7 linked regions of the Homo sapiens genome follow. The protein of the gene in region 6 purifies or fractionates together with the protein of the main gene of each other region. This does not show direct contact. Each region holds a gene or a part of one and is shown on either strand. Other genes may lie near its edges.

Region 1 (3,500 bases), on a different chromosome or scaffold from region 6:
ATTGTTTTTATCAGACATATCATCTGTCAGCCATTCTTTCACACTGTTTACATTGTGCATTTATTGTATCCCTGCTCATTGTTTAAGAAATATATCCCTAGTGTTCAGCCAGCAATTATGCCAGCCTGACCTACCTTCAGATGGCTTGAAATGGTTTACTACAGTCTGCATCACTATGTCTGAGACCCTTGTGTTCTCCATCCGATCTTAAATTGAATTTTCTTTTCTCTTCTAGGTCATCAGTTGTGTTTTCCATCAAATGCTCAGTGTAATATTAATGTTAGAAGTTGGTGAAGGATCCCATCGTGCCCCCCTTGCTGTTACCTCCCAAGTCATCAACTGTAGAAACCAGGCGGTCCAGTTTATCAGGTGAAGCACACAAATCGTGAATTTTCACCCTGTCAGTCTCCCTCAGTACTCTGGGCCCTGCACTAAGATTTCTGATACATGTAGACTTAAAATTTCTGGCCTGATGGTGGTTTTGGGGGTGAAAACCAAGCACTTCGTAGCTAATGTGCTTTATGTGTCTGGGTCTCTGTTGGTAGGCTCCCAGCTGGGGCACTGTTAAAGAGATAGGAATCTGCAGAACACGGGCCAGCGCCAGCCTCCAGCTTGTTTGCGCTCAATATGTGGGTCAGCCTCAGAGAGAGGATGGTGGCCTCTCCTCCTTTCCCTTGTCTGCTTCATTGCAGCCAGTTCACCTCTTTCCCTTTTCTGTTGCTCTCTACTTTGCAGCTCTTTGCTTTTGTTCTTTGCCACTTTCTTCTTGTTTCTTTGCACTTTTCTATTCCTTTCCCTCTGTAGAAATGACTTGAAGGAAAGGATTGAGTTGCTTTTTACCTCCGTAGCAATAAGTGTTAGACTACTTTTCCTCTCATGGGTCACTCAGCTTCACTTAAAAACTCTCATGCCTTAGTTTCACTGGCAAGGACATGTTTGCTGCGTTGTTGGCTTTTCCTTCCCTCCTTCACTGATTTTTGGCGTGCAGTGTGGAGGTGGTGCCGAGACATGGTGTGCATGTGCAAGTGTGTGCATGCCTTGGGTGTGCACAGTGTGCAGGGTAGTTGGAGACATGGGGTGTGTATGACGTCATCTTGTGACTGAGCAAATGTCTCTCACTAAGGACTTTTTAAAACATTAAGTAACTAAAATGTTTTAAGTGAAAACACGATCGTTTCGTTTTTTCCATGAGAGTTTCTCATATGCCAGTCGCAATAGTCTTCATGTAATGTTACAGATAAACATCACTAAAAATGGATCAAGTCTGGGCATTGTAGAAATTTCTTCTTGAGGCGGGGCGCGGTGGCACATGCCTGTAATCCCAGCACTTTGGGAGGCCGAGGCGGGCGGATCACCTGAGGTCAGGAGTTGAAGACGAGCCTGGCCAACATGGTGAAACCCTGTCTCTACTAAAAAATACAGAAACTAGGCGTGGTGGCGGGCACCTGTAATCCCAGCTACTCGGGAGGCTGAGGCAGGAGAAACTCTTGAACCCGGTGGGGGAAGTTGCAGTGAGCCGAGATCACACCATTGCGCTCCAGCCTGAGCGACAAGAGCAAAACTCCATCTACAAAAAAAAAAAAAAGAAATTTCTTATTGGGTTAAAGTTTGGAGAAGTAATGTTACTAATGCATTTCACTGAGCTACCATGAGGTGGTACTGTGTCTTAGTCAATTTTTATATTTATCCCCAAAGGATATATTTTACATCTTCATATGAAATTTAGTAAGTAGTCAAAAGAATTGTATGAAGATTACATTTTTGTTCTTACCTGATGACTTAGCTACTCTGCAGCAGCTCTCAAAACTGCACGGGAACTACTTCACAGTTTTCTACGATGACATTTTATGTCTTCACTCTTCATTCTACTGAAACCACTCTTATAGCGTGAGGTAGAGTGTTTTAATAACTAGGATTTCTAAATATAGGAGTAGTGGTTTTTGGGGACAGTCGCTGACTGTATTGTGAACAGTAGATGTGTTTTTCTTTTACAAAGCGCCCTTGTGGATGAATTAAAGGAGAGTATATTCCCAGTCGTCCGTATCTTACTGCAGCACATCTGTGCCAAGGTACTGTTTGCCTTAGTAATATTAATAACATGGAAGTATATCGTGTGTGAAGATAAATGTGTGTGTGTGTGTGTGAGTGTGGGTATTTGTTCTTGGGAATGAGTGTGCATTGTTACTTAAAGTGGTTTTATTTAATGTTCACTAGATGGTCCCCTAGACAAAAGTGTTCTATAAAAAACAAAAAAACAAAAAAACTTTGTTTTGGAAAAATGTTGAACATACACACAGAAACAGGGAAAATAGGCTGGTGAACCACCACATACCCATCACCGAGTTCCACAGTTTTGTGTCACTTAAACCCCTACCCCACATCCCCCAACATGTGTATACTGGATTGTGTTTTGAAGCAAATTCCATCATATCCTTTCACGGTAATTCCTTAATATTATCAAACATCCAGTGTTCAAATTTCCATGATGATCTCTACATTTTTATAACCATTTAGACAAATGATTCTTAATTTGAACCTTATGAAACCTGGGGATCTAAAAACTCTCTGAAATTGTATACTAAATTTGTATGTGCATTTTTCTGGAGAGATGGTTTATAGATTTCCTTTAGATTAGTTTTGAAGTGTTCTAAAACCTAAAATTTATTAGTCATTTACGTAACATTTAAAGGTCATTGAACTAGTTGTACTCACTGACTTTCAACTTATATTACAGAATATGTTTCAGCCATCCTGCGGGTGGATATTGGTTGGTCAACTTCTCTTTTTGCTTTTCAGGTGGTAGATAAATCAGAGTATCGTACTTTTGCAGCCCAGTCCCTAGTCCAGCTGCTCAGTAAACTTCCTTGTGGGGAATACGCTATGTTCATTGCCTGGCTTTACAAATACTCCCGAAGTTCCAAGGTAGGAGATAGCTCTGCATAAAACCTTGGGTCCTTTTTAAACTCTTTTTAAAAGGGTCTCTTTTTCTAGGTCTGAATGAGGAGGGTTCTTTGGTTCTTACTCCTATCTGATGGCAATTCTTATGATCTTGCTTTACCAGATCCCACACCGGGTTTTTACTCTTGATGTTGTCTTAGCTCTGTTAGAACTGCCTGAAAGAGAGGTGGATAACACCCTCTCCTTGGAGCATCAGAAGTTCTTAAAGCATAAGTTCCTGGTGCAGGAAATTATGTTTGATCGTTGCTTAGACAAGGCGCCTACTGTCCGCAGCAAGGCACTGTCCAGCTTTGCACACTGTCTGGAGTTGACTGTTACCAGTGCGTCGGAGAGTATCCTGGAGCTCCTGATTAACAGTGAGTATGGCGACTATTGGGACAGTAAACCGGTCTTGTGCTCATTGAGAAATAGACTGCAAGGGAATCGTTCTTTTCTGTGGCAAAAGTAATAGGTATGGCATGATCTATTTTTACTCTCAAAACCATTTTTAGTATATTTTCTTGCCAAATAACTTTTTAAATAGGCAAGCCTGATACATTTGC
Region 2 (4,166 bases), on a different chromosome or scaffold from region 6:
GATTCTGTGCCACAACGCAGAATGAAGGCTAGATAATCAACATTTATATGAAAAGACTAAGGAATCCAAACCAGAATATATCAAGAAGTAACAAACTTTTTTTTCTTTTAATCTGAAGAACCCACAAGCAGAGAACTATACCCAGCAGCATTGCATCTTTACTGGATGGTACTATAAAAAACACAGAGAAATAAGCATATCCTGGTAGAGCCCAGTATAGGATGGGGTTACAAAGGAAAGTTGTCTCTGAGTGTATTTCAAAGTGGAATTAAGTTATCATTGTCTTTTATGTGGCACCACTGAAATGCAACAGGGATGTTTTACTACATTCTTTCTGGTACTGCAATTACACTGACAGCATGTAATTCACTTCTCCATATAAGAGCTGTCAAACCTTTGATCTTCTATTTTGAACAGGGTTAAATATAAAGGGTTCTATCACGCTGGATATACAAAATATTGTATGAAAAGATGTAGAAGGATCTTTATATTTAAAATAAAATTTAAAGTAAGAGTTTTAAACCTCAGCTAAACACAGCCTATATATTAACTCACAATTTAAAATATAATGATTTATTCCTCAGGATATTACACAAATCTATACCTATTTACTTTTCCAAACTTAATTTTGTACATCCCATCTGTGTTTCTCAACGGCACATGGATCATGAATCAGACGTATGTCACTTCTACATACTTTCTCAATGGCACATGGATCATCAATCAGACGTGTGTCACTTCTACATACAGATGCACAAAAAACTCATCAAGATCATCTGTCCCAATCATTCCTGTTTTTATACCAGTTAAGAGGAAACCAAAATTATTTTTCCTAAAGACCCATGAACTCCTCTTCCCAAATGTTTCTCGTTACAAAAACAGAAACCATTGCTCTTTGATTTCAAGTTACGTTGCTTACTCCATAACAACAGTGAAGGCAGAGTCAGCATACAATCTCCCTTGGTATCATCAATATTTAGAAAGGTTCCAAATGTCAGGAACAAAATATACACACACTATTAATTGGGAAATATGTCCAGAAAGTGACAGGGTAAAGAACTTATACACAAAACACGAAAAACAAACAACGATGTTAACAAAACAATGTTTAGGGAGGAAATTTTAATTTAAAAAACAAGTGACTTACAAAGTCGCCCTAAACCTACAAAAACTAAAAAACACAGAAACATTAGACAGACACTCCATTAAAGAAAAATTCTACAGCCTGAATACCAAACTGCAACTAACTACGGCATTCCAAAAGACGAGTTGGGGACAGAACTGTTTTCTGCCTGGCGAGCTGAGATACCACTTTACGCAAAGCCTTTCTAAAACTCCAACAATTATGGATGAAAATCACCCCAAAATATATCATAAAACACTCCCTTCTGCTTTAGAAACCCATTCTGTCCAAAGTGTGCTCAGAAATCCTTATGTCCCTGCACTTGTCTGAAAATGAAGATTCCTAGGCCCCCGCCTGGAAATTCTGATTCGGTAGGTCTGCAGTGGGGCCCAGGAATCTGCCTGTTTATACTTACTAAGGCTTGAAAACTACTGTCTCAAAGGGAACAAACTCAGAAAAATAGAGCATGTTCCCAGTGATGTAGGATTCTTCATTATGAGCATCAACTGTACTATGCCGTAACATGATGATCTCAGAGGTTAGAGAAATCTTCAAGCTATTTGCCTTCATGTTAGAAGCACCATAACGCTAAGATTCTGGGCTCTCACAACCCTTCCTGTTTTCTACGTCCTTGCTCATCATTAGCAGCTCCTTCCTCCGTGTCGCCTTTAGAAGTTACTCTTGCTCCATTTCAAAACAGCGTTTTAGACACCAGCGTTTTTATCTTAAGTTTAAATGAAAGGCAGGGGGCGAGATTAAGTGTACAGCACGTTCTTTAGGACGTGCTCTTTGTGATGGCTACGGGGGTGGCTCAGATAGCTCTTTTGGTAAATTTCCCAATCCTGCGCCATGCTCCAGTGTCTAGTATGTATTAGACACTCATGAACATTAAATGACCAGGTGAGGTAACATTACATAATGGCCCACCATAGTCTTTTACTCTGGGAAAACCCCAATCATCATTGCTACTTACACTGACAAACTGAATGTCGTCTTCATTTTCATCCGTTGTTGACTCAGATGCCTCAGGGCCAGCTGGAGGGACAGATTCTATTATCTATAAAAACAAGCCAAAACATGCTTATCTGTTCAGCCACATTCGTGTAGGAAGAGAGCGTTTCCGAAAGGAACAATTAAAGACAGAGAGCTCTTGAGGAAAACGAACTGAGCACAATTTCACGGAAACCCGACTAGGAACGGAACTCGAGCTCTGGCTCTTGCCACAGAGTGTGCGGAGCTGCAGGGACCCAACGCTGAAAACGCGTTAGTTACCAGCCTCTCACAATTCCCCTTATCTACTCCAGGAGGAACGCAAGCTCAACACCGAAGGGCAATCCTGCCTTAAAACGTCGCTCCCACTGGCCCAGCCGCGGCCACAACGAACGCCAGGGCCCGTGCGGGGGGCCGGGCGGCCATTGTTGCTGCGGGTTCCTCGCTCAGACACGCACCAGGCCCCAGAGCTGGGCTCGGCCCAAGACACTGAAGAGGTATCGCCCCGAGGCTGCGACGGAGCACCAGGCCTCAGACCGCAGAAAACACAAACCCTTCGCGGTTCGCCTCTGAGAACGCCAGGACCCTCACTCGACTACTCACTTCCGACCCCGGGTCTCCCATGTCTCCGACGGCCGCGCTGACAGCACCACTGCTCCTGCTGTCCCTACTGCCGCAGCCGCCACCACTCCCCTTCCCGCCCTGCACCGCCTCGCGCTACCGGGACCCGCCCCTGCGTGAGCTGGGAGGCCACTGGCGGAAAGAGACGAAAACCGCTTCAAAAGAGGGGCAGCCCTCACTGGTCCGCTATCTCCCCGGAGCCTCTTTCTCTCATTCCCGGGCTTCCTTCCCCGCGCCGCAGAGGATGCTGGGATGGTAGTTCCTACCCGCCGCGCGACCGCGCCGCGCGACTGCCCCGCGCGTGGGTGAAGAATGGAAAAAGACTCTGAGCTACAGCGAAGTCGTCTCCCTTCGGTGTTGCTCTACTATAATAAAATAGCCGAGTTCTTTCTCTCACTTTTTCACAACCAAATATTCGTCTATGTAATAGATCAATGGGAATGAAAAAAAATTGTGTGTGATTTGCTCAGAAATTGCCTTACCAAAATCGTGGCTCACCTTTTTATTTTAACATTTATTCACAAATGATTTTAAACATGAAATTTATGAAAGCAAATTTTAACAGAGAATATTCTTTTAAAGCTTTTATTTGTTTACCTCTATCAGCCTAGGACCACCTGTTATTGACAAGTCTGTAGTCCCAGAAAATCACCTTTATCATTTTGACCCTGATCTACAATGCACAAAATTATACAACAAAGGAGCTATGAGGTATCTGATTAGCCAACTGATCTTCAGCAAAGCAAACAAAAACATAAAGTGGGGAAAGGACACCCTTTTCAACAAATGGTGCTGGGATAATTGGTGACCCACATGTAGAAGAATTAAACTGGATCCTCATCTCTCACCTTATACAAAAATCAACTCAAGATGCATCAAAGACTTAAATCTAAGACCCGAAGTCATAAAAATTGCTCAAGATAACACCGGAAAAATACCTTCTAGACATTGGCTTAGGCAAAGACTTCGCGATGAAGAACCCAAAAGCAAATGCAACAGAAACAAAGATAAATAGACTGAACTTAATTAAACTAAAAAGCTTCTGCACAGCAAAAAAAATAATCAGCAGAGTAAACAGACAACCCACAAAGTGGGAGAAAAGGAGAACATAGGAACAAAGGAAAACATAGACTTACTAGGATTTTAAGGAGTTGGTGAAATTTAAGTGAAGCAGTGTTTTGATAGGTTCAAAACCGTCTAGTGCTGTGTGTAAAGGGTTCAACATCACATACGGACTGCATAGCGAGCCCAGGGTCTTGTTAACTTCAAAACTACAAAGTTAACACACACAGAGTATTGTGCTCAGAAACCCCTTCCTCCGTGTAGCCATGCCCTAAGTGTGTGGATTTATTTCTGGGTACTGTATTCTGTTCCATTTGTCTGTGTGTCTGTTTTTATACCAGTACCATGCTGTTTTGGTTACTATAGCTCT
Region 3 (3,500 bases), on a different chromosome or scaffold from region 6:
TTACAGGTGTGAACCCTGCGGCCAGCCCTACCTCATCAACTTTTTAGTGCAGACAAAAGTGCCCTATTCTGGAAAAGAAATGTCACAAAGGACATTGTACTAGTAAGGATGAGAAGTGAGCATCAGGATATAAGGCAGGAAGGGATAGGCTAACTCTGCTATTTTGTGCAAATGCAGTTCAGTTTATGATGGGGGCTGCCATTATATATAAAGTTGCTAACCCCTGAGCCTTGAATGGAAAAGATGAACACCAGCTGCCAGCCTTTTGGTTGTACAGCAAGAAGGCCTGGGCACTGAGAGCCCTTTTTCTGGACTGGCTCCATTGATATTTTCTTCGTGAAGTCAGGAAGTACTTTGCCATTAAGGGACTGCCTTTAAAAAGTTCTTTTGGATTAACTCAGGGTTATGGTGCATGCCTGTAGTCTCAGCTACTTGGGAGGCTGAGGCAGGAGAATTACTTGAGCCCAGGAGTTGGAGGCTGCAGTGAGCTATGATCGTGCCACTGCACTCCAGCCTGGGTGACAGGGACCCTACCCTGTCTCTAAAAAAAAATAAAGTTCTGTGGCCAGGCGCGGTGGCTCACGCCTGTAATCCCAGCACTTTGGGAGGCCAAGGCAGGTGGATCACAAGGTCAGGAGTTCAAGACCATCCTGGCCAACATGGTGAAACCCCGTCTCTACTAAAAATACAAAAATTAGCTGGGTGTGGTGGCAGGTGCCTATAATCCCAGCTACTCGGGAGTCTGAGGCAGGAGAATTGCTTGAACCTGGGAGGAGGAGGTTGCAGTGAGTCGAAAACATGCCATCGCACTCCAGCCTAGATGACAAGAGTGAAACTCTATCTCAAAAAAAAAAAAAGAATGTGAAAAGTCAACCCACAGAATGGGAGAAAACATTTAAAAACTGTATATCTGATAAGGGACTTTATCTGGAACGTACAAAGTTCTCTTAAAACTCAACAATAAGAAGACAAATAACCCAATTGGAAAAATGGGCAAAGGGTCTGAATAGGCATTCCTCCTATATATTCCTCCATATATGAATAAAGAAGATATATATATGGTTAGTAAGCATATGTAAACTTGTTCAACATCTTTAGTCATTAGGGAAATGCAAATCAAAACCACAATGAGATATACCCACTGGAATGTCTATAGTCAAAAAGGTGGATGATAAGTGTTTATAAAGAAGCAGATAAATTGGAACCTTTGTACATTGCTGGTAGGAATGCAGCCAGTTTGGAAAACAATATGGCAATTCCTCTTAAGGTTCAGAAGAAAATTAAGATTATTGACCTAGCAATCTACTCCTAGTATATTCCAAGAGAAATATAAATATACTTCCACAAAAAAACTTGTACATGAATGTCCATAGCAATATTATTCATAACGACCCCAAAGGGGAAACAACCCAATGTCCATTAACTGATAATGGACAAGCAACATGGTGTATATCCATACAATGAAATACTATTTTGTAACAAAAAGGGATGAACAGATTCATGCTACAACATGGATGAACCTTGAAAAAATTACAGTAAGTGAAAGAAGCCAGATACAAAAAGCTACATGTTATATAACTCCTTTTATGTAAAATATTCAGAATAAGCAAATCTATAGAGGGGAAAGTAGATTAGTGGGTCCCAGGGGCTGGGGGAGAAGTGGGAGTGACTACTAAGGAGTATAGAGTTTCTTTTTGGGGTGATAAAAATGTCCTGAAATGAGATAGTGGTGATAGATGCACACCTCTAAAAATGTATTTAAAAACTAATGAATTGTACATTTTAAAAGGGTGAACTTTATGGTACGTGGATTATTTCTCAATAAAGCATTATTAAACAAATAGTAAATTTAGGAGAGGGAGTCCTGAGTGTCTGCCATGGAAGCAGAGATTGGAAACTGGGCTGGGGATTCAAAGACTCCCCATGGGCAGCTCATGTGGAAGGGATCTGCTGACAGCCCAGACCCTGCATTAGAGTCCAACCTGTGTTACTGACTTACGATGAATTTCCCAACGAAGCTCCGAATCTCTGCCTGCCTTACTGAATTATATAGTAGCAAAAGACTGAAGACCTTCTCAATACAAATTAGTAGGTAATGTATATATTATACATTGATACAATGCAATAATATTTAGATTTTAAAAAGAATGAGGTAGGCCAGGCGTGGTGGCTCATGCCTGTAATCCCAGCACTTTAGGAGGCCAAGGCAGGTGGATCACTTGAGGTCAAGAGTTCGAGACCAGCCTGGCCAATACAGTGAAACCCTGTCTCTACTAAAAATACAAAAAACTAGCTGGGTGTGGTGATGCAAGCCTGTAGTCACAGCTACTCGGGAGGCTGAGGCAGGAGAATCACTTGAACCCAGAAGGCAGAGGTTGCAGTGAGCCAGGATCGCGCCACTGCACTCCAGCCTGGGCTCTGTCTCAAAAAAAAAAAAAAGAGGTAGATATATAGTACTAGGTAATATTTATTTAGTATTAAATGCTCTCAAGCACTTTGATGAAGACTTTATTTAATCACAATATCAACTCTGTGAAATATAATTATTAGCCCATTTCAGAAGATAACACCAAGCTATAGAGGTTAAGTACACAGCAAAATCAAAGCTAAACCAAGGCATTTTGACTCCAGAGCTCATCTCTAATCCAGCAGTTCTCAAAGGGTGGTTGGGGAACCCCAAGACCCTTTTAGGGGATAGGTCTGCAAGTTTAAAACTGTAGTCATAATGATATAAACATGTTACTTGTCTTTTTCACTAATTTTCTCATGATTATACAGTGGAGTTTTTGAGAGGCTACATGACATGTAATTACATCATCACTGTTTAAAAATTTTTTGTTTTCATTTCTGGTATAGTAGATGTGGATTGATAGAAGTCATATAAATGAAAGCTCTTTTGAGGTCTTCAGTAATTTTTTTTCGCTTCCTGTACCATGCATATCAGTAATTTTTAAGAGTATAAAACGTTGCTGAGATCAAAAGTTCAGAACTGCCACTCTAATCTAAACTACTGTCTAGTCTAAACTATTATTCTATACTTCTCATCTCTATATGTTAAGGATTGATCTCCAAGATAAATTGTTTTTTGTTTGTTTTTTAGAGACAGGATCATGCTCTGTTGCCCAGGCTAGAGTGTAGTGGAACAATCATAACTCACTGCAGCCTCAAACTCCTGGGCTTAAGTGATCCACCTGCCTTGGCCTCCTGAGTAGCTGGAATTCCAGATGCAAGGCACCATGCCTGGCTAACTTTTTAAAATTTTTCATAGAGATAGGGTCTTACCATCCTGCCCAGGCTGGCCTCAAGCTCTTCACCTCAAGCAGTCCTCCTGCCTCAGCCTCCCAAAGCACTGGTATTACAAGAGTGAGCCACCACGCCCAGCCCAAAATAATTTTTTTTTAAAGCAAGATGTAGAAAAGTGATTATAATATGTTTCCATTTAGGCAAGAAAAAAAATGGAGAGGACTATACCTGTACTCTCTGTACATAGGATCCACAGA
Region 4 (3,500 bases), on a different chromosome or scaffold from region 6:
ATATCGACCAGTCAACTCTGTGGTTCTGGAATTTGCTTCCAAAAAATCTAGGTCTAGAGAGGATGATGAGCCGGAGTGAAGATACAGATGGGTGATGGGCACGGGGATGCGTGTGGTAATGTTCTCTTCACTTTTATACATGCTGGGAATTCCCCACAATAAAAAGTCAAACACAGGACTCTAGGACCAATCTCTTGCCTCTCCCGCTTCTAGAACAGCAAAGGACTCAGGGGGAAAGTGGCCTAGAGTGGAGATATTTCACACTTACACATGAAATACTGGAAGGCCTTGGACTTCACAAGGATATTAATACCTATTTGAAGAAAAGACAAGTTAAAATGTAAATTTACGCACTTGTTCCCCCTACTGTATCCTTAATTATTATTATCTCTTTCTGGGCAGGTGCAACCACCTACCACACTCTTCGTGCATGCAGGTAAGCATGGTCTTTACCCCAGAGGTGAAGAAAGGAGGGTCCTGCTCAAAGAGTGGTACCCATGCTTCTGCTCAGACCCCCAGACAAGACTGCACTGACTACAGCTGCTCTGGGGGGAGCCTGAGCAACCTGGAACCAAGATAGAGCAGGACAAAGCTCTCCTGATCACTGCTGAAACTGGCATGAAATTAAGGGGCAACTGTCAGGTAAATAATACGAGCACCCAATTTCAAATTTTCAAACTTTACACTACACAAGCATTATTCAAGGGGTCATGCAAAGTATACATCCTGCCATAAGAGGAGGGCAAAAATATATTATCGGGGTCGGGCGCAGTGGCTCACGCCTGTAATCCCAGGCCTTTGGGAGGCCGAGGTGGGTGGATCACGAGGTCAGGAGTTCAAGATCAGCCTGGCCAGCATGGTGAAACTCCATCTCTACTAAAAACACACACACACAAAATTAGCCGGGCATGGTGGCACATGCCTGTAGTCCCAGCTACTCGGGAGGCTGAGGCAGGAGAATCGCTTGAATCTGGGAGGCGGAGGTTGCAGTGAGCGAGATCGCACCACGGCACTCCAGCCTGGGCAACAGAGCGAGACGCCGCCTCAAAAAAAAAAAAAAAAAAAAAAAAAATATATATATATATATATATATATATATATATACACACACACACACATATATATACACACACACACACACACACATATATATATACACACACACACATATGTGTTATTGGATGAAAAGGCAGATTACAGAATGGAATATATAATGTCACCCTACTGTTTTAAAAATGCATAGAAAAATGGCACAGAGGGAAACACATCAGAGAACTAACAGTGGTTATCTGGGTGGTAAATTTCCATTTACTTCTAATTATCTCACTTTCAAGTTTCTTCAATGAACATCTTTGCTTTTGTATGAAAAAAGAAAAATACCCCAAATGTCTTGGTTGGGTTAAGTTACCCATTTTGGTTGGGTTAAGTTACCCATTTCTCTCCCAATCTGCTTCCTACCACCCTTACGTCCCTGCTGGGGTAATCACACTGTCTCTTCACACAGGCATTCAGACAAACACACACACACACACACCCCTCTGAACCTCTCCTCAGACGCTTATCTGTGGTCTCTGAAAACCTCCATCGGCCCCCAGCTGCCAACACCTGCCATACTCAAGCCCACTTACCTTTGAAGATGAGGAGCGCCGTCCTGGGAAGCTCATCAAACCAGTGCTCTCTGTTTTTCTTGGCCTGGTAGACAACAGGACCAAGAGGGAGGGTGTCAGGGCCAGGGACCAGGGCCCTGCCTGGAGCCAGGATGCTGGCTTCCTTTCCTGTTCACCCTGCTAAACTGGGGAACAATGTTAACCTTCAGGGATCTACATGACAACACAGCCAGCCAGTGTGTACCGAGCGTTTACAATGTGCCATGCAGAGGCCTTATTTTAGTATAGTCCTGAAATGAGGTTTGTCAGTAGGGATTATCCTTACGCCACTTCCCAGGTAAGACAAGCCTCAGAAAGGCTCAGTAACCCGCCTGATGTCACACAATAACCAATGGGGTCTAAGTAAGATTCGGTGCTGTTAACGATGACACTGTATCACAAATGTAAGGGCAGATTTGGGGGCTGGGGCCACCTGTGATCCCTGAAGTGTACCATGCCAAGCTGGGGGCTGAGCTGCTCTAGCAGGGAGAGAGCTGGATCTCGGGGTGCCCCTGCTCCTCACTGCCCCACGTGGGGACCTCTCTGTCTACTCCTTCTATGGTCTCAGAGAAGAACTCACCTTCCACTTCAAAGCAGCAACTTCGTAGATATCGTAAAAGTCCTTTAGGCTACCAAAAGCAAAATAAAAAGGGACAAAATATCAGAACATAGTTCCACTGTGCTTTGCTTCTCTTACTTGCCTGCCTATGGACACCTTTATGGGGTGAGGGAGGAAGAGAGGGGACACCATGTGAGTCCCAGCACAGCAGTGCTGGGGGATCCTTTACCTGCAAGCGTTTGGATCTCCTCTGACCTTGAGGTACTACAAATATGTAATCCACTTAAGTCTCCACCGATGGCACTAACTACGGACAGTGTCAGTGCCCTGGAGAGGCAGCTGCTGGAGCACTAGGATTCTTAGGAGGACGGAAACTTCACTTTTTAGCAGGGGCCTTAATGCAACACCTGGGACTGCAAGTTCAGCTCAAACAGGGCTTGTTCTCAGCTCCACAGCAGGCTGCTGTGGACAGGGCTTGGTCATCAACAGCCTGGAAGACCAATCCTACCCCTGGAGATCTCGGGTCAGTTCTCTGCGGCCGAGCCAGGTGTGTGCAGGGGATTGGGGAAGTATATTCACCCCTGTCTGTCCACCTGGCTCACATGGGACTATCCCACCCCACTGGGGGTTCGAGGGCCAGCAGCTGGGCCAGTCCACTTCATGAGCTCCTTTTTTCTCAAGTCAGCTTGAATTGGATTTGTGTTGGACTTTTGTCACTTGCAAAAGGCATCCTGATGAATCCAGTGTGTAAGTCTACATGGATAAACATCTGTGGAGGAAGTCTCTGACAAGCCTATAGGCCTGCCCACCTCAAGGGCCTTCACATGCCCCCGTTCACTCTAGACGTGAACACCTTGTCTGGCCATGCTGCCCCTACCAGGCATCTGCTCTTACCTGAGCAGGGGTGTGTTGTTCTGATTCAGGGCCTTGAAGGTAAGATAGCGCTCCCTGGCACTCATCCGGGGCTTGTAGAAGCGCATGAGGCCTTCAAACTGCCTGTAGGAGATGCCGGCAGGCCTCTGGGGGAGAGGGAAGAGCAGTGTGGAACCCAGGCTACTCCCCTTCCCTTGGGGCACCCACTCCAGATCCACTCCAGCTCTGTTCATTCTTCCAAGGGCAGGGTTCCTGGTTTCTAAAGTGGCTGGCCTGGCCATGCTTAGGGGCTGCTCTGGGCAAGGGAGGGAGGACAGGGACCAAGCCCCTCCCTGGCCCATAGTTCCTACCCTCTGGCTGATGAGCAGGCGGTAGGCATGCTGGATAGCGGTTCGCTTGTGCAGTAGCAAAGACTTGAACTT
Region 5 (2,491 bases), on a different chromosome or scaffold from region 6:
AGTTTGATGTTTGTTTGACGATGGAGCTACAAGAGTCTAAATCTGCCTTTGAAAAGCTCAGCTCACAGTGTAGTAGAGTAGACTCCAAGGTTCAAAAAAGTGTTTTTAATAAAATTTGGTAAGTTCTACAATCAAGGAATGAAGAGAGAAGAGAACAGCTTTTTCCATCTGGGAGATTCAATAATGGCTTCATATATAGATGATAGTGTGGCTAAAAAAAATTACATCAATGCTGTTTCTATTGGGAAGCAATGGCAAGTAATAGTATGTCAATACTGGTCAAGTGTTGAAGCCAGGATGCACTTACACAACGAGAGTGTAAAGTGTGTAGGGAGCTGATCTGTGAAGGAGCAACTCAAAGATTTTGAAATTATCAGTGAAATGCCAAAACAGGGAAAGTTTCCCTGTTTCCCTTCATCTATTCTACAATGCACCATTGGTTTTCAGTGTGAAAAATCCCAATCCCTGAGCCCAAACCACTTCTGGGGTCAAAACATTTTTCTTGTGCACAAAATGAATGGATCTTGGTCAAAGAAGTATGGTCACAATTTTCTAGCATATATTGCGTTTATAATTTAGCAGAAATTCTGCAATAAATAAAGGAAAATCTGTTTTACCTGTGCAACAATCAGAAATGGTAAAAATGCATTCAAGTGTTTGAAAGAAATGGTAGAATATGCTTGCATAGTGCTTTATAGTTTCAAAGTGCTGTCAGGTACATCGTCCGTTTAGCTCCTCACGCACTTTGTAGGGTACAAGCATCATGTTCCATCTGGGTTGTGGCTGATTTTCATGGATGGCTTGTGGCATCAGTTTCATTACTTCATAGTCACAATTCTGTGTTTCATCTTGAGAAATGTGGAGACTAATGTTTGTACCAGTATATTCCACATTCAGTGAGGTTTCCAAGATGCTTCCTCCAAACTCTCACTTTCTTAAACAGATACATTTAAAATATGACACCTTCTGAAAAGTCCATAAAGAAATTAGTATATTCATGGAAAAAATTTCCCCGTAGACTTATTTGCATTTCATGACTTGACATGAGAAATTTAAAAAACAGAAGGCAAAATGTGATTGCTTTTGATGGATTTATACAGAATAGTCATTTAATTTTCTCAAGTATTATTTGGAAACAAGATAATGGAAAACATTAATCAGAAGCCTTATTTTATTTTTAAATTTTTAATAGGGATGGATCTAGTAAGCCCTAATAGCTGAGTTCCAGTGATAAAATTCACAAATTTTATTTATGATTGGACCACTTCTAACAAGGCAAATATCTTATAATGAAGATAGGAGTCTGTTCAATTTAACCTTATTCAGGAAACTCCGTATTTATGTGAAATGATGCAATGCCATTATTAAGAGGTATCTGTAACCCTGCATAATAAAAACATGCATAAGAAGAATGTGGTCTAATCTCCAAACTGAGTCTCAGTTTCAGGGCCTTTTGCTTTCTTTGTTTGTTTGTTTGAGACAGTCTGGCTCTGTCATCCAGGCTGGAGTGCAGTGGCACATGAGCTCACTGCAACCTCCACCTCCCAGGCTCAAGCGATCCTCCCACCTCAGCCTCCTGAGTAACTGGGACTACAGGCGCATACCACCACACCTGGCTAATTTTTGTATTTTTGTAGAGACAAGGCCCAGGCACGTCTCAAACTCTTGAGCTCAAGCGATCCGCCCGCCTTGGCCTCCCAAAGTGCTAGGAGTAATTATAGGTGTGAGCCACCATGCTGGCAGTTGTTTTTGTTTATTTGTGATAAGGTCTGGCTGTCACCCATGCTGGAGTGCAGTGGCATGATCTTGGCTCACTGCAACCTCTGCCTTCCAGGCTCAAGCCAGCCTCCCACCTCAGCCTCCGAGTAGCTAGGACTACAGGCATGCACCACCATGCCCAGCTAATTTTTTTATATTTTTTGTAGACACAGGGTTTTGCCACGTTGCCCAGGCTGGTCTTGAACTCCTGAGCTCAAGCAGTCCTCCCACCTTGGCCTCCCGAAGTGCTGGGATTACAGACGTGAGCCTCTGGGCCTTGCTCTGTTTTGTCTGCTTTCTGATTTAGTAGGTGAGGGACAGCACTCTGGACCTTAGCCATTTTACTTCCATCTTACTGCCGTGAGTTTGATGAGAATGTCACTTTTAGACTCTAATTTTCAAAAACTTAGTTTCTTTCCCATTCATTTGTGTTTTCCAAATTAATTTGTTTGTCTAGTATGGATGCAAAGGAATGCTGAAGACATTAAAGCTTTCTGAATTGTGGCTTAAGGCCAGCTACTGCCCACTGAAAGGATGATAAAAATAAAAAAGGAGGAAAGAGGAGCCCAGCAGTTGTGCCACCCCGCAAGAATATAATGCTAATTATTGACCAACTGTCAAGATTCAGAGTGGTAACTGCATTCCGAGGAGCTGTCAGGAAGGATGACCGTGTGTGTGCTGTCCATATCATAGCCATCTGGGTCAGAAGGAGCGAAAGGATGGTTAGGACAGG
Region 6 (3,314 bases):
CCTAGAGATGGCACTGCTGGACATGAGTGAAGAGGCCCCAGAGGACCTAGGCTACTTTGTAACATTAGGTGGCTTGGACTGGAGGGAGGGGCTGTTTCCAGCCACCCGGATGATGAGGGGAGCTTAGAGGAAATGGCGCTGACGGCCAGGTTCCAAGCCCTGCCCTACCACCCCGTCCCATGCTAGCTCCCAGATGGTGTCAAGCAGCCTTGCCTTTATGTGGATCCTGTGCACGTCAGCAACACCTGCCAAGGCAGCAGCCGATGCCCCAAGCAGGGCTGGGTGCTGCAGGATAGCTGTAGGCAGCTCAGGGCTGCTGCTCTCCCTGCACACTCCACCTAGGGGCTCCAGGCTCAGCTCTGCCTGGTCCTCAGGGGGTTTGATGGACGCCTGCAAGGGCTGCAAACCCTAGGTGCATTCTGCTGAAAGGTGGGTACCCAGCCTCTTCCACCTTAGCCTGTGGCAGCCGTGGGGGCCACACCAAGGACTAACCATGCCTCTTCCGGAACACAAGTTTATTTGGCATTTGGATGAAATGATTCTCACAGCATCTTAAGAAAAGTTAGTGTCAACCCAACCAAAAACTAAAAACCCTTAATGAAAACATAAAAAAACAGGCATCAAGACAATGTACAGTATCAAATCCCACCTCCGCATGGCAGGTCAGAGGGCACCTGGGCTCTGAGAAACCGTGGCAAGCTGGTCCTAGAGGAGGAGGACCCCTGGAGCACAAGGTTCAGCAAGGGTGACCCCGGGACTTGCTGGTCAGACTGGGGACTGCAGCAGGCCTTGCAAAGGGGGCATTCTGGATGGTGGTGCAAGAACAGATGAGCGAGTCCAGCTCTCCTCATGCTCCCAAGGGCCTCCTGGAGCCACAGTGGCAGCGGTGTTCCAGGCAGCCCTGCCATGTGGACCTTCTGCCTGGCCCAACGTGCCAGTGGCCTGAGTGCTTGTGGAGGCCCATGGGGAAGGGGCCACCCAGCAACCCCGGCCAGCCCAAGGCCCACCCTCTGCAGCCTGCATGGTCCACTTTACCCCGTTTCCTCACTGCCCCCTACGTGTCTGACCGGCCCCTAATGTTCCTCTGGTCCCCAAAGGAAGCGTCCCAGTCCCACACATCTCGTGCCAGCCACCCTGTCCCGCACACACAGTTCTGAGGCCTGGCAGGAATCCTCTGAGCTCTCAGGCTCAGGCCCGTGGGGGACTCTGCTGCGTGGTCCTCGGGCCCTCACTGGCCACCTGGCACCCATAATGCACATGCCTGCTGCTCTGGAACCTGGCTGCCCTGCCCCAGTGCATGTGGGATCCACGGCATGCTTCCTGCTTCGTCCTCTGCAGCCAGTAGGGGACTCCTGTGGCCAGGACTTCCTTGTTAAGTAGCAGCCCTTCTCCAAGGGGAGCACAAGCCTGCCCGCACACAGCCTCCAGCATCATGCTCCAGCAGGCCAAGCTCAGGGACAGGCAATTCAGTAACAAAACTCACAGCTCTGGACAGTTCTGGCACAAAGGTCAAGTCTGTCTGTGGGCAACTCAAGATTCTCATTCCACATGGGATGGAAAAAATGGGTCTCCAGCCACAGTGTGAGAATGTGTCAAGAAGTGGACTGTGCATGGAGTCCATCCCCGAGCAGCACCACAGAACTGCATGCTTCAGACAGGCCTCCCAGGTGCTGCCCCGCTGGTCTGGAAAGACTGAGCGAGACAGCACTGCCTCAGCACAGCCCAGGATGCATCGATGACCCTGGAAGAGTGGGCCCCCAGTGACCCGTGAAGTTCCATGTGCCACCCTCACCTGCAGACGCTTGGCCACATACACACACAGAGACACAAACATACAAAGGAAAGATCCAGACATTCAACGTAGAAAAGATATGGATGTGCTAAAAATCGCACAGAACCCGCTTAATCTCCAAACCTCAGAAATGTTAAAGGCCCTGTGTCAGGCAACAAAACCACTGCCCAGGAGCAGGCAACAGGGTCCGTCAGGCAAAAGGGTGCCAGGAAGGGCCCCCAGCCCCTGCGCTGCTGAGGAGGGGCCGGGAGGTGTGCATGCGGCCGCTGGGCACTGAGCTGCAGTAGTGGCGGTGATGTAAGGAGTGGACTTTAAGGAGATAGATGCAGCCCAGGATGGTGGTTTCAGCCACCCCTCCTGCAATGAAGCAACCCTTTATGGCACAAATGGGGCCGGGGGCAGGCCCAGGGGCAATTCAACAGGAGGCAAGAGCCCAGGGCTCCAGAGTGGAGAGACAGGAGGCAGCTCAGTCCCCAGACCCCAGCAGAGCATCTGGGGCCTCGGCCCCACTCCAGAGCTTCTTCCTGAGGGAGCCATGCACAGCAATGCTGGGAGAGGGACTGATGGGGTGGGGTCAGGCCTCCTGCCACAGAGCTGGGCTGCAGAGCCCAGATGGAAAGACACAGTGAAGAGCTCAACCTCCTTCCAAGCTCTCCTTCTCAGGGCTTCAGGTTCCAGAGCCCCAGGGGAGCTCCCAGCCAGGGGCAGGGTCACCTTGATATTCACAACTGGGCTTGTGGGGGCCATCTTCAGTGCAACCGTTGTGACAAAGTCAAGAGGCTGCCTCCCTGAAGCAGACCCACTGCCTACGCCACACTGACGGTCCAGAGGCCCCCTCCTGAGGGCGGCCAGCAAGGGGCACTGTGGCAGCTCCCACTGTGCCTGTCCCAGACTGGGTCAGCAGGTCTCTCTGGACAGCACACTGCACCAAGTAAGCCCACCAAAAACGCATCAGGTGTGGCCATGGCCCACAGTACCTTCTTCATTCCCTGCCTCTAACATGTGCGGTCTGAATGAATTTTGTCACTCTTCTGCCATTTATAAAGGAGAAGACAGTGATCCAAAGCTATGCATGTTTCTGAAGCCCTCAAGGAAGCTCGGTGCAGGCCATCACTTCTTTTGGCAGAAGGCGGGCTGTGGTCTCTATGTACACACGCGAGCCCGCCAGTGACGTGCGGCAGTGCGTGGCGTCCAGGCTGGGACAGGGGCCTTTCAAGTCTCCCCAGGGACCGGTGTTTTCTACAACAGACAGGTGCTCCCAGACCGTTGGGGTACAGGCCAGGCCGTCTACACCACAGTATTGAGGGAGCTGCGGCTGTGGCGGCCACCCCCTGGCAGTGCCTCTGCAGCTGGGGTGCTCCCGCTCTGGGCAGGGTCAGGGGGCACGAGCAGGGCGCTGCTGCTGTCGGCAGAGTCTTCCAGGTCTGCCAGAGAGGCCCCCGCAGTGGGCAGAGGCTGCTCCAGGCGCCGGAGTAATGCACCTTCACTCCCACCATCCCCAGGGGCTGGCAGGCTGACCTCC
Region 7 (2,168 bases), on a different chromosome or scaffold from region 6:
TCAAATGTCACAACTTGCCTATTATTTATTTTAGTGCATTTTTTTGTGCTTTTCCCAGTTTGGTGTTAGGTGGCCTTAAGTTCTCAGTAATGACACTTATCAAATAGGAACTTAGTGTTACTCACCTTTATCCATTCCCCCAACACTCAACAAATTGCCTTTGCTATATCCCTATGAGATGAGCAGATCAAATATTCCCCGTGAGTTAATGAAAACTGATTCAACCAAATGGCGAAGTCAGAGACTATCGGGGGCCATGGAGACACTCTGGGCCATTTTTATGAGGTAGTCTAGGCTCATCTTCATGAGGGAACTGAGGTCTTGGGGGGTGGGGGTTACCCAAATAGGTTCACAGAAGAACCAGAAATAAAACCTGCCTTTCTAGACTGTAAGTCTTGTGATTGTCATCTAAATGGTTGTCTCTATACAGCAACTCATCTCTAGAACTGAAAATAAGTTTAAATCCCTCCTCCATCCCCAATAATTCAAGCTGCATTTCAGAGAAAACCAGGACTTTGGAATCAGACAGATCAACTTTGAATTCTTGATCTGCTTCTTCATAGCTATTTATGCTTAGGCAAGTTTTGTTTTGTTTTGTTTTACGTTGCCACTCAGTCTTCTCATCTGTAAAACAGGGATAATAACACCTTCCTCAAATGGTTTTTTTTATTAGGACTAAAAGAGAGAATGTGTGGAAAGATGTTAGTGGAATTCCTGGCACATAGTTCACATGGACAAAATGGTGTTAACTACGAAAATTTTTACAGAGAAAAGGGCAACTGACAAAAGCAGGTGTTTGGAATGAATTAAGACCATGGCAGGCTTTTGAGGCCTTTATATTTCTCCTGACTGTGCAATAAAAATATTTTGGCTCTCTGTCTAAGACTTGGCTGTCACAGTAGCAATGGTAATATTAGCTACTGTGCCAGAAGCAGCCTATCAATAGAGAAATTGAAAATCTGACCACACAAATGCTGCAGCACCCAGCTGAAATGCATTTGGATGACAATCTCAGATGGGAATCGAGAGCATCTCCTTCTGCCTTGCTAATAGCAAGCTGATTTTTAGAATATAGTCTAAGTGCTTCTCTTCCATCCTCCCCAGATTCTCACCTGCTACACACCCCTCAGAGGGACTGGAGGAATCCAGACAACGATGCGCAGGGGCCCTGGTGCTATACTACTGATCCAGAACAGAGATATGACTACTGCGACATTCCTGAGTGTGAAGGGCAGGAGTGGCTCTAGAAAATGTTTTCATTTCTGCCCTTCACCTGTAAAATAATTTGTTGTAAAGCCCCTTCCCACAGGGATATTATTAATAATTGCGTAACGTGTTCACCTCTCGGAAAGGAGCAAAACTTTGCTCAGATCCCAGAATTAACCTGATTTTTTTTTTTTTTTCTGAGACAGAATTTTGCTCTCATTGCCCAGGCTAGAGTGCAATGGTGCGATCTCAGCTCACCACAACCTCCGCCTCCGGGTTCAAGCGATTCTCCTACCTCAGCCTCCCAAGTAGCTGGAATTACATGCATGTGCCACCATGCCTGGCTAATTTTACATTTTTAGTAGAGACAGGGTTTCTCCATGTTGGTCAGGCTGGTCTTGAACTCTCGACCTCAGGTGAGCCGCCCGCCTCAGCCTCCCAAAGTGCTGGGATTACAGGCATGAGCCACCATGCCCAGCAGACCTGAATTATTATTATTAAAATGTTACATCAACATGTACAAATATAAAACTACATCTAAACTCTAAGTACAGACTTCTTATGCTTAAAACTCTTACACAGTGTTAACCCCAAGACAGATTTGCAATTAAGTAGTTAAAATAAGACAACAAAGTCAATAAAAATCAAATAAACAATATACATTTAATGTGGTAGACTTTGCTGTTTTGCTGAAGCTAAGCAAGGAACCAGTTTTTAAATCAGCAATCCGTTATTTTAATGGACTGAGCAATTTAATAGTGCACCTCAAAGGTCAATGATAAAAACTAAAAAAAAAAAATACCTACTGAAAAAACTGTCATCGTTTCACATTTCTGGCTACGTTAGTGCAAAAGGGAATAAATAAAGGTGAGATTTGTGTGACAGTGTGGATATGGTACTGTGTGACAACTCAGTTCTCCCATCACTTCCACCTGTTTGAATCATCGGGATCCTTTATTTGT

The links.
Region 1: the proteins of DGCR2 (region 6) and NCAPD3 purify together in Homo sapiens (co-immunoprecipitation; 2 studies listed by BioGRID and IntAct, with this or other methods). This does not show direct contact.
Region 2: the proteins of DGCR2 (region 6) and KIAA1586 purify together in Homo sapiens (affinity purification with mass spectrometry; one large-scale study listed by BioGRID and IntAct). This does not show direct contact.
Region 3: the proteins of DGCR2 (region 6) and DNAJC18 purify together in Homo sapiens (co-immunoprecipitation; 2 studies listed by BioGRID and IntAct, with this or other methods). This does not show direct contact.
Region 4: the proteins of DGCR2 (region 6) and TPCN1 purify together in Homo sapiens (affinity purification with mass spectrometry; one large-scale study listed by BioGRID and IntAct). This does not show direct contact.
Region 5: the proteins of DGCR2 (region 6) and HECW2 purify together in Homo sapiens (affinity purification with mass spectrometry; one large-scale study listed by BioGRID and IntAct). This does not show direct contact.
Region 7: the proteins of DGCR2 (region 6) and RGPD2 purify together in Homo sapiens (affinity purification with mass spectrometry; one large-scale study listed by BioGRID and IntAct). This does not show direct contact.

What each region holds. Positions count from the first base shown.
Region 1 is NC_000011.10:134,203,468-134,206,967, reverse strand, and holds part of NCAPD3 (condensin-2 complex subunit D3), read left to right. Parts: intron 1-235; coding exon 236-369; intron 370-1,996; coding exon 1,997-2,069; intron 2,070-2,796; coding exon 2,797-2,922; intron 2,923-3,061; coding exon 3,062-3,314; intron 3,315-3,500.
Region 2 is NC_000006.12:57,045,327-57,049,492, reverse strand, and holds the start of KIAA1586 (E3 SUMO-protein ligase KIAA1586), read right to left. Parts: upstream 2,801-4,166; 5' UTR 2,738-2,800; coding exon 2,717-2,737; exon of another isoform or gene 2,572-2,716; intron 2,181-2,571; coding exon 2,097-2,180; intron 1-2,096.
Region 3 is NC_000005.10:139,429,526-139,433,025, reverse strand, and holds part of DNAJC18 (dnaJ homolog subfamily C member 18), read left to right. Parts: intron 1-3,500.
Region 4 is NC_000012.12:113,276,964-113,280,463, reverse strand, and holds part of TPCN1 (two pore channel protein 1), read right to left. Parts: coding exon 3,429-3,500; intron 3,225-3,428; coding exon 3,100-3,224; intron 2,276-3,099; coding exon 2,227-2,275; intron 1,693-2,226; coding exon 1,629-1,692; intron 314-1,628; coding exon 269-313; intron 1-268. UniProt on the Homo sapiens protein: Intracellular channel initially characterized as a non-selective Ca(2+)-permeable channel activated by NAADP (nicotinic acid adenine dinucleotide phosphate), it is also a voltage-gated highly-selective Na(+) channel activated directly by PI(3,5)P2 (phosphatidylinositol 3,5-bisphosphate) that senses pH changes and confers electrical excitability to organelles.
Region 5 is NC_000002.12:196,196,064-196,198,554, reverse strand, and holds part of HECW2 (E3 ubiquitin-protein ligase HECW2), read left to right. Parts: 3' UTR 1-2,491. UniProt on the Homo sapiens protein: E3 ubiquitin-protein ligase that mediates ubiquitination of TP73. Acts to stabilize TP73 and enhance activation of transcription by TP73. Involved in the regulation of mitotic metaphase/anaphase transition.
Region 6 is NC_000022.11:19,035,786-19,039,099, forward strand, and holds the end of DGCR2 (integral membrane protein DGCR2/IDD isoform 1 precursor), read right to left. Parts: coding exon 3,080-3,314; 3' UTR 501-3,079; downstream 1-500. UniProt on the Homo sapiens protein: Putative adhesion receptor, that could be involved in cell-cell or cell-matrix interactions required for normal cell differentiation and migration.
Region 7 is NC_000002.12:87,757,629-87,759,796, forward strand, and holds part of RGPD2 (RANBP2-like and GRIP domain-containing protein 2), read right to left. Parts: intron 1,849-2,168; exon of another isoform or gene 1-1,848.